4 separate regions of the Homo sapiens genome follow, and all the other regions are reported to be linked to region 4. Evidence: microRNA targets listed by miRTarBase, many of them from high-throughput screens and not tested one by one. Region 4 holds a microRNA gene; each other region holds the end of a gene's coding sequence. Distances are from middle to middle.
The links. Region 4 holds the annotated microRNA hsa-miR-4753-3p (UUCUCUUUCUUUAGCCUUGUGU, at 1,313-1,334, shown strand). A microRNA usually pairs through its seed, bases 2 to 8, with sites in the 3' UTR of a target mRNA and lowers its output. Matches are read on the target gene's strand: a 7mer-m8 pairs with bases 2 to 8, a 7mer-A1 pairs with bases 2 to 7 and ends in A, and an 8mer does both.

Region 1: the mRNA of SPRY3 is a reported target of hsa-miR-4753-3p. The part of its 3' UTR that is shown has no 7-base or 8-base seed match.
Region 2: the mRNA of MTFR1L is a reported target of hsa-miR-4753-3p. Seed matches in the 3' UTR shown: 8mer at 477-484 and 7mer-m8 at 1,055-1,061.
Region 3: miRTarBase lists EXOC5 as a target of hsa-miR-4753-3p. The part of its 3' UTR that is shown has no 7-base or 8-base seed match.

Annotation. Positions count from the first base shown.
Region 1 is chrY:56,960,588-56,963,725 of GRCh38, reverse strand. It overlaps SPRY3 (sprouty RTK signaling antagonist 3), which reads right to left. Exons shown (of 3, transcript NM_001394354.1-2): 3 at 1-3,138. The coding sequence ends at 2,468. Among named protein-coding and RNA genes, the nearest start is that of SPRY3, 39 kb to the right of the region's middle.
Region 2 is chr1:25,831,686-25,834,823 of GRCh38, forward strand. It overlaps MTFR1L (mitochondrial fission regulator 1 like), which reads left to right. Exons shown (of 7, transcript NM_001099625.2): 7 at 236-1,253. The coding sequence ends at 341. AUNIP (aurora kinase A and ninein interacting protein) reads right to left here. Exons shown (of 3, transcript NM_024037.3): 3 at 2,321-3,138. Among named protein-coding and RNA genes, the nearest start is that of MTFR1L, 13 kb to the left of the region's middle.
Region 3 is chr14:57,206,121-57,209,231 of GRCh38, forward strand. It overlaps EXOC5 (exocyst complex component 5), which reads right to left. Exons shown (of 18, transcript NM_006544.4): 18 at 1-2,677. The coding sequence ends at 2,489. Among named protein-coding and RNA genes, the nearest start is that of EXOC5, 61 kb to the right of the region's middle.
Region 4 is chr1:235,188,236-235,191,373 of GRCh38, reverse strand. It overlaps MIR4753 (microRNA 4753), which reads left to right and starts at 1,258; the gene lies at 1,258-1,340. The region is part of intron 19 of ARID4B (AT-rich interaction domain 4B); the gene reads left to right.

The DNA of each region.
Region 1 (3,138 bases), not on the chromosome of region 4:
GCACATTTCAGGCAGAAGCAGAGAAGTGTGTGTTGCTACTCATCACCATCCAGCTTGACCCAGAGAACTGGGCAGAGCTTTTCAGGGTAGATAAGTGTAAAGTACAATCAAGCAGACTTGTAAGATTAAAAAGTTACTTAAAATTGAAGGATCTGAAAGCAACATAAGAGGTTACAGGTATTGGTTTGGGTTTATAAATGTTCCAAGAAGCCTAACCTTATATATGGCACCATTTGCAGCAATATCATTAACATTATTAATAATCATCATAACATATTTATATATACAAAAATAGAGCAAAGCAATTCTAGAAGAGGAGGTGTAAGTGAAGGTGTGGGGCTCTGTGCAGCCCAAATGTCAGTACACTTCAGGAAGATTCAGAACCAACAAAAAGTGAGTGGCACATATTTCTGTAATATGTATCCAACAAAGGGACATGGAGGTCCCCTCTTCCCCCCGTGTACTACTATACACTTCTCCCCACTTCTCCACCCTGCAACACACATCCATGCACACTCTAGAAGAGATGATCTATAAAGTTAGAGTCTGGAGGTCTTAAACTAAGTTGGAGCACCTTGATTTCAAGCAAGTGCCCTCAATCTCTGAATTCGTCAGTGAATTTTGGATTCACTTATAGAGGGAAACTGTATAATTCTTGTGTCTTTTAGCAGCAGTCTTTAGGAGCCTGCCATCACCACTGCAGCTTTTTCCCATTGAAGGGGGTTCACAGCACAGGCTCTCTGTACTTTTTAAGAGAGAAGTCAGTTCTCTACATTATACATCTTTCATCTCAGTTTTTCACTGTTGCTGAAATTTAAGTTCTCAGGCAGCTGCCATTGCAGACAAAGCCAGGAGCAAGCACAGTGTGTGCAGCAAAGAGTAGATGCAATGGCGAAGATACAGCTTGGTTAGGGCTTCTTTAAGCTTTTCTTTTCCACACTTGAGCTTCTACAAGGTGACAGAGCCAAAGGTGATGTCCACTGGGGGCAGCCTCAACACCTGATAGTTAATTAGCTACCCACCATGCACTGGAGAAAGACCACCACACTAACTAGGCATGGTTCCTGAAAAGTAATTGAATGGGAATGGCTTTCTGTCACTGTTAATAGAGCCCTAGGAAAAAGTCCCATGACTCAATGTGGTACAGGGGTAAGAATACTGAACTAGGAGTCAGAAGGCCTATATTCCAGTCTCAATTCTGCTGTTAACTCAGTGTGCGGCCTTGGGGGCAAGTCCCTTCCTACCTCCAGGCCTCAGTTTTCCCATCTGTAAAATAAGGGCATTGAACTAGATTAATAGTTAAGATTCCTTCCAGCTCTAACGTTTTATGACTTTTTATGTCCATTATTAACGCCTGAGCCATGCAGTCTCAGGGAAGTTAGCTTCTAAGAGAGAACATACCTCTGTATCCTTTGCTTTGTTCATTTAGCTATAAAGCACGTCTGCCTTTGGCACTTGGGTCAGACATACAAAGTTATGAGCATCCTGATTTACTATCCTACTCAGCATGCTAGTGGAATCTGTCAGCACTATAAGTTGATTATTGAGAAAGGGAGAAAAACTCCAACTAGTTAAACCTGGAAATATAAGATAACTTCGCCTCATGCGCTCACGAACAGGTGAGAGTGGTTGTGAGCACACACACACATCGGGATACACACTATTGCTAGTGATCAGTTCATTACAGTAATCCATTTCCCTTAATAAAAATTAGTAAATAGTATAGCATAGCAAAGTTTGGCATCTAAGGAAACATCTATGGAAAAACAGCACTTTTGGACATGTTAGAGAAAAAGGGACAGGTAGAGAGAGACAAATATAGATCAAATGAGATAGAAATACAGGCAGAGAAAGGATCAGTCTGAAAAAGAAGGAGGGGAGAAGGAGAAAGGGAGGAAGAAAGAGAAAAAGTAAAAGCAGACAGGGTGAGAATGAAGGGGAAAGGAATACAGAACAGAATAATGAAAGAGGAGAGAGGAATAAAGAAGAGAAGGGCAGTAACAGGGAGAAGGGGTCGTATTCCCTGGAAGGTTGAACGCTGTTCCACATGTACCTGTGAAAACCATCTTAGAAGAAAGCTTCCAAAGGCACAGCAGAAAACAGAGTGACGATCAGAGCCTGCATCGAGAGGTATTACATTGGGGAGCCCCTAAACCTCCACGTTGCTGGCCCTGTCAGTCCTCAGTGTTCAAACCTCATACCCATATATCACCTGAATTTGCCATGACAACCATAAAGGCTGAGCTGGCAGGGTGTAAAGACTGAAGAGGAGTGGGATAGATACTGTGAGAAAGAACAAGGCATCCTGCACCAGGATGTACTTGGTCATTCCCCTGACACTGCAGGAACAAAAGAGAGGCCCTAACTTTGGCTAGTTTATCACTCCTCCCCCTCTCCAAAGATGAGGCCTATGCTTTGCTGTTGGGGACTCGAAGGAGAAAAGCTCTGGATCCACCTTGTTGGAAGGTCATACAGACTTTTCCTGGGCCTTGGGGAAGGGTGCACTACCAGAAGAGATCTTTCTGCACACAGTGTTGGTGTGCCTCTTGCAGCGGCAGCCTGGTCGCCGGAGGCTATCATAGCCCTGTTGGCACAGATGGAGGCATCCACGGGTAGGCAGGTAGCAGCACAGGCAGGGTAGGAAGAGGGAGATGAGGCTCATGGCTGCCCAGCGGACAAAGCAAGAACTAGGCCCACAAGAGCAGGGCTCATCAGCACAGTTGTCTTCATCATCAGTGGAGCAGTGGTAGAAGAGGCCCTTGACACAGCAGAGACAAGTGCCATAATCGAGGAGGCTCTCAGCAGAGCAAAGGCAGCGCTGGTTGCACAGCCAGCAGGAGGGGAGAGGGCGAGCTGCTGTGCAGGGGACGCACTTGCAGCGCCCACATTCCTCACAGATGAAGAGGTGCTCACTAGGGTGCCCTGCAGATTGCTCAGCTTCTCCCTTCAGAGCACCATCAGCCTTTGGGTGGACCCCTGCTCCAGGTTGGGTTCGGATGATGGATTGGCCTGAAGGTGAGGGTGTAATGCTGGCCAAGAGCCTTTGATCAGAGGCAGTGGTGCTATGGGACATTGAGCTGGCAATGCTAGATTGGCTCAGATGCTGAGGCAAGGGCTGCAGTTGATGGCACTGGCTGA
Region 2 (3,138 bases), 210 Mb from region 4:
GGAACCAGCTAGTTTGGTTCTGAACTCTGGATTCACCGCTTACTTGCTGAGTGACTAGTGACCTTGGGCAACTTGTATAACCTTTCTGTGCTTCAATTTCCTTATCTGTGAAAGGGAATTGTAATGGCACCTACCTCGTAAGATTGTTGTGAGGATTCAACGAGATAATGTATTCAAAAGATATACAGCACTACACAGGAAAGAGTAAGTACTCAAGCTATTATTGTGTCTCTAGGAACCGGAGTTTATTGAAGGAGGAAGACCCTGCTGTGCTTATCTCTGAGGTCCTAAGGAGGAAGTTTGCTCTAAAGGAAGAAGATATCAGTAGAAAAGGAAATTGACAACCCTCAGCTCTGCAAACTCAGTCTCATGCTCCTGGAATACCTTCAATAGCTGCCTTCCTCACCGCAGATGTTTCTGCCTCTTAAGGATAGATCTTCTGCAACAGTCTTGCTGACAAGCTAGAGCTTGGACTGAAAGAGAAGAGCTGGATTATATATTTCCCAGACTTCAAACCCTAGCAGAAGCTAAGGCTTGTGATTTGACCTGAGACATTTGTTTCAGGTAATCGTGTAGAATGAAGTATCTTAGTTTAAAGGGTAAGAGAGAAGTTGTTTCTGGTTTTTCCTTGCCCCTGTGTGAAAATAGGTCCTAAATGACTGACTTCACTGCATTAGACCCTATAGCTGGTCTCACAAGACACTTTGTGCCCAGCTGTCACTCACTCAGCAGCTTCCTTGCAGCAGAGCAGGGCTGAGGGGAAGGGGCTATGAATGTTTGTATACATGTTCACAGGGCACGGAAAATCTTATGCTGCTCCGTCATAAACCTACACCAATGCCCAGCAATCACCCTCCTCACTTCCTTGTCTAGATGTAGAGGTCAGGCTGCTGAACCAGCCAACACATGGGCTACTGCTGGGAAGCCTGGGCTGTTTTTTTTCTTAAACACATTTTATATTACTGAACAACCAAATCTACCCTCCACGGCCCTGAGGCCTTATCAGTTCCACTGATTAAAAACTTTCTCTTCCACGGACTTTAAGCCCGGTAGGAAAGAGAGAGGAGGAGGGGGAAAGAGCAAACCATCTTTCTTCCAGGCCCTTGACTGCTCCTTTGGGCTGGGCCAAGGTTTGTATGTACCACACCATGCATGACTCAGATGCCCTCAGGTCCCTTTCTCTATGGTATGTATACTGCTTGTGTTTGGGTTGAAGCACTACCTGACATTAAAGGAAGGACTTGGAGAGAGAATGCATTTGCTGTGTCCATCTCTTGAGTTGCGATTACCCAGTATCCTTCAGGGGCATAGGATTATTGTTAATTTTAAGGTGTATGAACTTAAACAGGCTACTGGCTTCTCCTCTTTCCTTATAAGGTCCTGCCCTTCTAGGGGGTTTCTTCCCCCTTTCTGTAGAGATTTTGCCCTATACTCTTTTTCTTTTTTTTAGAAACAGTATCTAGCTCTGTCATGCCGGAGTGCAGTGGTGGGATCATTAGCTAACTGCAGCCTCCAAACTCCTGGGCTCAAGTGAGCCTCCCACCTTAGCCTCCTGAGTAGCTGGGACTACAGGTATGCACCACCACACCCAGGAAATTTTTAAATTTTTTTGTAGCGATGGGGTCTTGCTATGTTGCCCAGGCTGGTCTTAAACTCCTGGTCTCAAGCAAACCTCCCACCTCAGCCTCCCAGAGCGTTGAGATTACAGACATGAGCCACCGCACTAAGCCCCATACATTCTTAAAAGCAGGTCTTCCAGGAAAATGACTGGAGAGATGACATACACGATAAAAGTAGAATTTAACATTTAAATTAGGCCAGGCACAGTGGCTCACACCTCTAATCACAGCACTTTGGGAGTTCAAGATCAGCCTGGGCAACAAAGCAAGACCTCATCTCTACAAAATATTTTAAAAATAATTAGCTGGGCATGGTGGCATGTGCCTATAGTTCAGCTACTCGGGAGGCTGAGGTGGGAGAATCACTTGCGCCCAGGAGGTCCAGGCTGCAGTGAACCGTGTTCATGCCACCACACTCCAGCCTGGGCAAGAGAGCGAGACCGTGTCTCAAAAAAATAAAATTTAAGTTAAAAAAAAAAAAAGAAGCAGTTCTCTTATAACCTTGCAAGTTTGTCCCTTAGAGGTTGTTTAAGCCTCTTAGATACCACATCAACAACAAGGAATAATGCCTTGGGTAGAAGACAGGTCAAACTAGACTCTGGTTCAGATCAGGCTCAGGGCAATGACAGCATATACTATTACAGTGTTGCCTTTTCAAAAATAAAATTGGTAATGGTTTAATTACCAATTATCACAAGAGCCACTTTGTAAACATTTATTTGGATTCATAGTTTTACAAAGGGGATTCCCTCCTATCTTGTGGGAAAAGGGTAACAGAGTCACATCCAGATTGTTGTACAGCTCAGGCTTTTTAAGGGAGATATTTAAACATAGAGTATATAACTTTAAAGTGCTGTACAGTTACCACAAAAATAAAATAGGAAACTAGCACCATTCTACCTCTCTTCTCTCCACACCTGGGTTGTGGGGAGATTTGCTAATCACTGAAAAAAAAGGGTCAAGAGTAATCATCCCAAGCTTAGGCTGATGTGGGTTAAGATCAGCCAGAGATTAAAAGCTCACACATCTGGCTGGGCGCGGTGGCTTATGCCTGTAATCTCAGCACTTTGGGAGGCTGAGGTGGGCGGATCAGGAGGTCAGGAGATGGAGACCATCCTGGCTAATATGGTGAAACCTCGTCTCTACTAAAAATCCAAAAAAAATTAGCTGGGCGTGGTGGCGCATGCCTGTAGTCCCTGCTATTCGGGAGGCTGAGGCAGGAGAATCGCTTGAATCCGGGAGACAGAGGGTGCAGTGAGCTGAGGTCGCACCACTGCACTCCAGCCTGGCAACAGAGCGAGACTCCATCTCAAAAAAAAAAAAAAAAAAACACATCCATAAGCAAGGTCCCAGTCAGACATCTGGAAGGGCAAAGAGATGGCTCTGTGCAGGCTGAGTAAAAGGCACTTTCATAGAGATAAATACCCACTGTGCTGCCTCAGTGTTCATCATAGACTCATTCAGGGAATTTACCAGCCACCACCTTCCTGAGGGAAAGCCATGATGCCAATCCCACTGT
Region 3 (3,111 bases), not on the chromosome of region 4:
TTACCTAAATACTGCATATTAGCTCATGCGGTATTGTGTAATACTGCAAAGACCGTACTTACGTAAATGTTGGTTAAAGTTACCAATTATACAAAGCTCCACTCTCTACCTAAAATTTTACCATGTGCAAAACGAAAAACATTTTAGTTATTGATCATCTCTTCTGAGCCATACACTTTGGGCAAAATTTTGTGATGGCTATAAATATGAAAACACTTAAAAAATCAGAATACAAAGAATGCATATTGCCTCACATGACACATTTTTTTTTTTCCCTCAGAGAAAGACCATCTGTTTAGGATAAATTTCTAGTCTTGTTTATATAGTCAAGTATTTTTTGCTAAAAAAGAAAATGAGAAGACCTGTGCTGTGAAAAATTTTAAAAATCTCAAATTTTTAAATAAAAAATCATTTATAAAATTCAGGATGGATGGCTCTAAAATATAAAAAGAGTGAAATAAAAAAAACAACTGCAGGGAATTTGTTTATTGAGCATTAATGTTAACACTTTTAAATTAAGTATTCACTTACGAATTTTGTCACTGTCCTATCAACGGACATAATAGAAAATATTGCACAGAACTCAAACATGAAAATAATAAACAAAATAACTAAGCAACAAGTATATGCTTTACATTTTAAAAATTAATCCAAACAAAATAATTTGAAGCACTTCTCTGATTTGGAAGTCTTAAAATGTTATCTCATGTTTTATTTGAGATTTTTTTTCGTTTTTTCTTTTTTACAAATTGACACTGTACAAAGAGCTTAAATGGCCAGTAAAACTACTGCCTTAAAATTGTTGGCTTTAAGTAACAGAGGTAAAATTTGAATTCACATCAGAGCTTTCTAAAATGGCAATAGTACAAGCAAATGACTTTCTCTAGTATCCAAAACCTGCGCTGGCTCTCCCTTGGCTAGAAACAAGACAGCCTTCTAAAGCTGCCATAATGTCCTAAAATGCTCTGAAAGAAGTTGGTATACTTCATTCCCCAGCTTACCTTGGTAACACTGGACTAAACAGAAAATGAAGAAAATTCAGTCAATAGTAACTTAAACAGTACTAAGTTAGCTCTGGACTTAGAAGGTTTGGTAAAGTTGATGACATTCAGAATAAGGTTCTCAGAAGAAAAGCAGTTTTCCAAAAATAGGCTAAAAAGCCTATATTAAAGAAAAAATGCCAAGAGTGAATTGAATACTTAAGTTTATCTGTTCCTAGAAGACTATGAACACCACAATGGGAGCTGAAACACTATATATAATTTAGAATGCATTCTCCCAGAGCAAGTTTATAAGGTTTATAGAATAGTAATGGCCTTTCTAAATTTTCACTTGATATTTAAAATTTTATAAGTGATTTATTATGTCATCAAATTAAGCCAATTCCATTAACTATATCCAAGTAGGAATAACTTCAGAAATGCTTTGAAAAAGGACAATGACAGACCTATAGACATGAAAAGCAAACAGCCTTTGCAAAGCTCATCTCCAAATCTATCAATTCTCAATTCTTCTTAAAATAAAAGACTAACCACATGTTCAGCCATTCCATCTTATTCAAGTTTAGCATTACGACAGAAATCTCAAAGGGCTGCATGTTGCTAAACACTGTCAGTATTTCCTATATGCACCATTTAGACTATACCTCACTTTTTTTTACTTCCCTTATAATATTAAAATAATGAATAAATATGGTCCTTTAGTTAAGGTCCTCCACCTTAAGTGAAATACAAAATAAGGTAGTTTTATTAATTTCTTACTAGAATTGGCTTAAAATCTATTTACCAAATAAGAAATAGTAAACTTTTAAGTTTTACCCAGAAAGCAGAAGTATTCCGATCCACTCCTAATGTCTACATAAAATAGTTCATCATTTTAGTTCAGTTTATGACATTTTTTGGACTAGTATTAATGCTGTACCTCAGAAAAAAATCCAATCAACCAACTGCAGAAAGTATGCTTAATTGTTAACCTTTTGAAAGAGGCAAAAAAATTATTTACGAAAACCTAAAATAATCTGATTAACAATTGATGCTGAAAAGGTCATTAAAAACTGAGGAATAACAAATGTAGTTTTCCTGTATTTCACCTATTATTAATGGAAAACAGAATGGCAAAATTTCTAAATGGAATATGTTAAAAGTACAAGAACCGAAAACACTGGTAACATTTCCTTTGCCTTCTGACAGCAACATTTTCTAGGATAAAAACAGTGACATGTAGTTTTAGAGAATCTGAAATTTCTACATTCAAGAATGGAATTAAAATTCAATGTGAGGGGAAAAAAGCAAAATATAGCTAGTGGTATCCAAACTTTAAATAAAACCTCAAAGGTAAGTATGGCTGCTGTTTTGTTCCAGTCATTGTTTCACAAAATGTTGGCTGTGTCATAAGGTATCTCCTGTGCTTTCTATCAACCGAGGGCTGCTGAAGTATAAGACATTCCTCTGTAAAGGAACTGACACTGAATTCCTTTGTAAATTCAATCTCAGCTGAAGTGTCGAGCAAGGCGGGCAGATCTATAATCAGCACGAAGTTGTACGAAGGAGTGAAGTATATTCTTGTCCAGATTAGCAAGTTGTTCTCCTGAGCAGACTTGCTTTAAATTATCTGGGGCAACTACCAGAAGATTGCAAAGAGCATGCAGAGTATCAAAAAGATGTAATACCATTGGAATCTGAATTGAGAGAAGAAAAAAAGTAACATTGAAACAAAACAATTTCCAGTTTTACAATTAGCTTGTAACTTTTTACATACTGTCAGGTGGGACTTACTAGTGTGGGTGAAGTTCAACATATTAGAATTTTTTAAAGATCACAATGCATTAAAACTTAAAGATTTCAGTAGTTAAATAAACTTGCTATAATATTTCAAAAAGATTCATGTGTCAATTCTCTTCAATAGTAACAATCATATATACTTCAGAGGACTAAAACTAGTTATTAACATACAGCATTTTTCATAATTTAAATGTTACAGAAATATTCAGGGGGACATAAATGAAGACAACATTTTTTTCCTAATGTGTGACATATATAACATTAGTCATGGATGTCAATAAGTCAAAGACTGTGGAACTGAAAATACACCATAAAGCAAAAATGGGTTTAA
Region 4 (3,138 bases):
GGGAGGCTGAGGCAGGAGAATCGCTTGAACCCAGGAGGCAGAGGTTGCAGTGAGTCAAGATCACACCATTGCACTCTAGCCTGGGTAGCAACAGCGAAACTCCATCTTAAAAAAAATAAAATAAAAAGAATATGTGACACATTCGCAGTGGATGTTATGTGGGAGTGTGCTCAGTCGTAGTAGCAGACTACTCTATATATATTCTCATTCTAGGCTTATGGTGATTTACCCCTATTTTTCACAAGTAGGTCAGAATGTTTCTGCTGGATAAAATGATGTCATTAGCTGATCTAGGTAGTGGCACATAAGACATGGAAGGGAGAGCTGGAATTTCATTGACACATAGTTGAAACAAGATAAATACAGATTTTAAAATCCAGTCTGGGTCACTCAGGCATTCAAAGACTACAGAGAGGCGGTAGCAGGTAGCTTAATGATAATAGCCTGCAGTATGACTTTCTTTGGAAATAACACTGCTGTAGTCTGGACTGGTTTCCCTCTATATCTGTTGCACAGCTATTTTCCTAGGGAGATCCCATTCTAGGGATCTCCTTTAATGTAGTTCTTGGATTTCTTTGTTTTTGGCATCTCAGGTTCCTCCCCACCCCCATACTTTCATTTTGGTGGAGCACATTCTCTAGTAGCTTCTAAAGAACAAGTGCATGAGATGGAATTTTTAGAGATTGGCTGCATTTAAATATCTGTATTTATTTTTGCAAATATCTTTATTCTATTCATAGTTTGGCTGGATTGGAAGTTTTTCCTTCAGTATTTTATTGGCAGTGTTGAATTGTTTTTTTGCTTCCAGTATTGCTTTTGTGAAGTCCAGAGCTCTTCCAATTCCTGATTCTTTGTATGTGACTTGTTTTATTCTTTATTTTTTGCTTTTCTGTCTCTGGAATCTTTTTTTTTTCTTTTCTTTTTTTGAGATGGAATCTCACTCTGTTGGCCAAGCTGGAGTGCAGTGGCACAATTTTGGCTTACTGCAGCCTCTGCCTCCTGGGTTCAAGTGTTTCTCCTGCCTCAGCCTCCCGAGTAGGTGGGATTGCAGGGGCCTGCCACCACGCCTGGCTAGTTTTTCTATTTTTAGTAGAGATGGGGTTTTGCCATTTTGGCCAGGCTGGTCTCGAACTGCTGACCTCAAGTGATCCACTCACCTCAGCCTCCCAAAGTGCTGGGATTACTGGCATGAGCCACCATGCCCTGCTAGGAATCTTGAATCTTTGTTTTTCGTATCCAGAAATTTAACTCTGAAATATATCTACACAAGGCCAAAGGAAGAGAACAGATATATCCACAGTACACTTGGCTGTTCTCTTTCTTTAGCCTTGTGTAGATATATTTTCATCCCCTGTGATGCCTACTTGCTAGACTCTTTCATTCTAGCAACTTCTGTCTTTCTGTTCTAGGCAGTTTTTTTGAATGATTTTCTTGATGATTTCCTCTCCTGCATTTTACTGTTCTCTCCTTTTTAATTTTTGTTCATTGTTACTATTTTTGAGATGAGGTGTTACTATATTGCCCAGGCTGGTCTCAAACTTCTGAGCTCAAGCGATTTTCCTGTCTCAGCCTCCCAAAGTGCTAGGATTACAGGCATGAGCTACTGTCCCAGCCCTGCCAAATTTTTTTTTTTCTTTAATTGAGACTGTGTTTCACTATGTTCAGCCCAGGCTGTTCTCACACTTCTGGGCTCAAGCAGTCCTCCTGCCTCAGCCTCCCAAGTAGTTGGGTAGCTGGGGTATAGGTGCATGACACTGCACTTGGCTGTTATCTTTCTTTGGCCAGCCATTATTTGATATTATACCTTCTGTAATATACTCTAATATGCTCACCTTTTAATTTCTTGCTTTTTATTAATTTTTTTGTCTTTTTATTTCTTTGAAATTTTATCTGCTTTGTCTTTTAATCCTTTTGTTGACTTTTTGCTGTAATGTTTAAGTTTTCAATGATTTTTTTTTTTTTTTTTTTTTTTTTGAGACTGAGTCTCACTCTGTTGCCTAGGCTGGAGTGCAGTGGCATGATCTCGGCTCACTGCAATCTCTGCCCTCCAAGTTCAAGCGATTCTCCTGCCTCAGCCTCCCGAGTAGCTGGTATTACAGGCGCCTGCCACCGCACCCAGCTAATTTTTTGTATTTTTAGTAGAGATGGGGTTTCACCATCTTGGCCAGGCTGGTCTTGAACTCCTGACCTTGTGATCCACCTGCCTCAGCCTCCCACAGTGCTGGGATTATAGGCGTGAGCCACTGCGCCCAGCCTTTCAATGAATATTTTTAAATTAAACTAGTTTAATTTTTCAAGAGCTCTGTTTTCTGTGTGTTTTGTACCACTCTGTTCTTATAGATGGATGCAATACCTTACCTTTCGGATTTTGATCTTTCAAAGGATTTTATAATTTTTGGTTTTTTCAGTTACCTCTAATTTGCTTTTTTCTGTGTTGTTGTTTTGAGCTCTTCCCTATTAAGAATTTTTTTTCCTGGCTGTCTTATGATTATGAAGGAAAGACTAAACTGATTTGGAAATTGCAAGCATATGGTTGGCACTTGTTGACCTTGAGTTTCACTATCGGGTGATCTGGTTGGCCATGTCCTAGGGAATTCATAATATGAAGTCTTTAGGTCTTTTTCTCTTAGACTAGTTGGCTTCCAGAGAAAAGAGTTCCAATCTCTTGACTGGAGGGTGGTAAGAGAATGGTTTCCAGTGTTCTAGGATCTAGTTGAAGAACAGAGAGTGGGGTGGAGGATTCTTAGTGGTTAGATATGTTCATGAATCCCCCTAATTTCAGCATCGCATCTGTACCTGTGCCTTCAACAGTTGTTAGCATCTCCCAGGCTAGGAGCCCTCTCCTACTGTCTTCAGAGAATAAAGCTCTAGAAGGGCAGTCACCTTCCAACCTGAAGTGAGGTGGGGATCTAGGCATCTAAGTAATTTTTAGTCTTCACCCAGTGCTCCTTGTATGAGGCTCCCCACTGCCCTTTTTAATTTTCATAGGCACTAGGGCAGTCAGTAATTATTGAGGTTTCTATGGTAAACTGGGTTGGTTTTTGGCTTTCCTCACTGCTGGTATGAGGTTTAGCCTTCTTTGGTGCCCGTCATTCATTTATCTGCTTTCTGACTTGCAAATTGTGTTGCTTTTCTTTC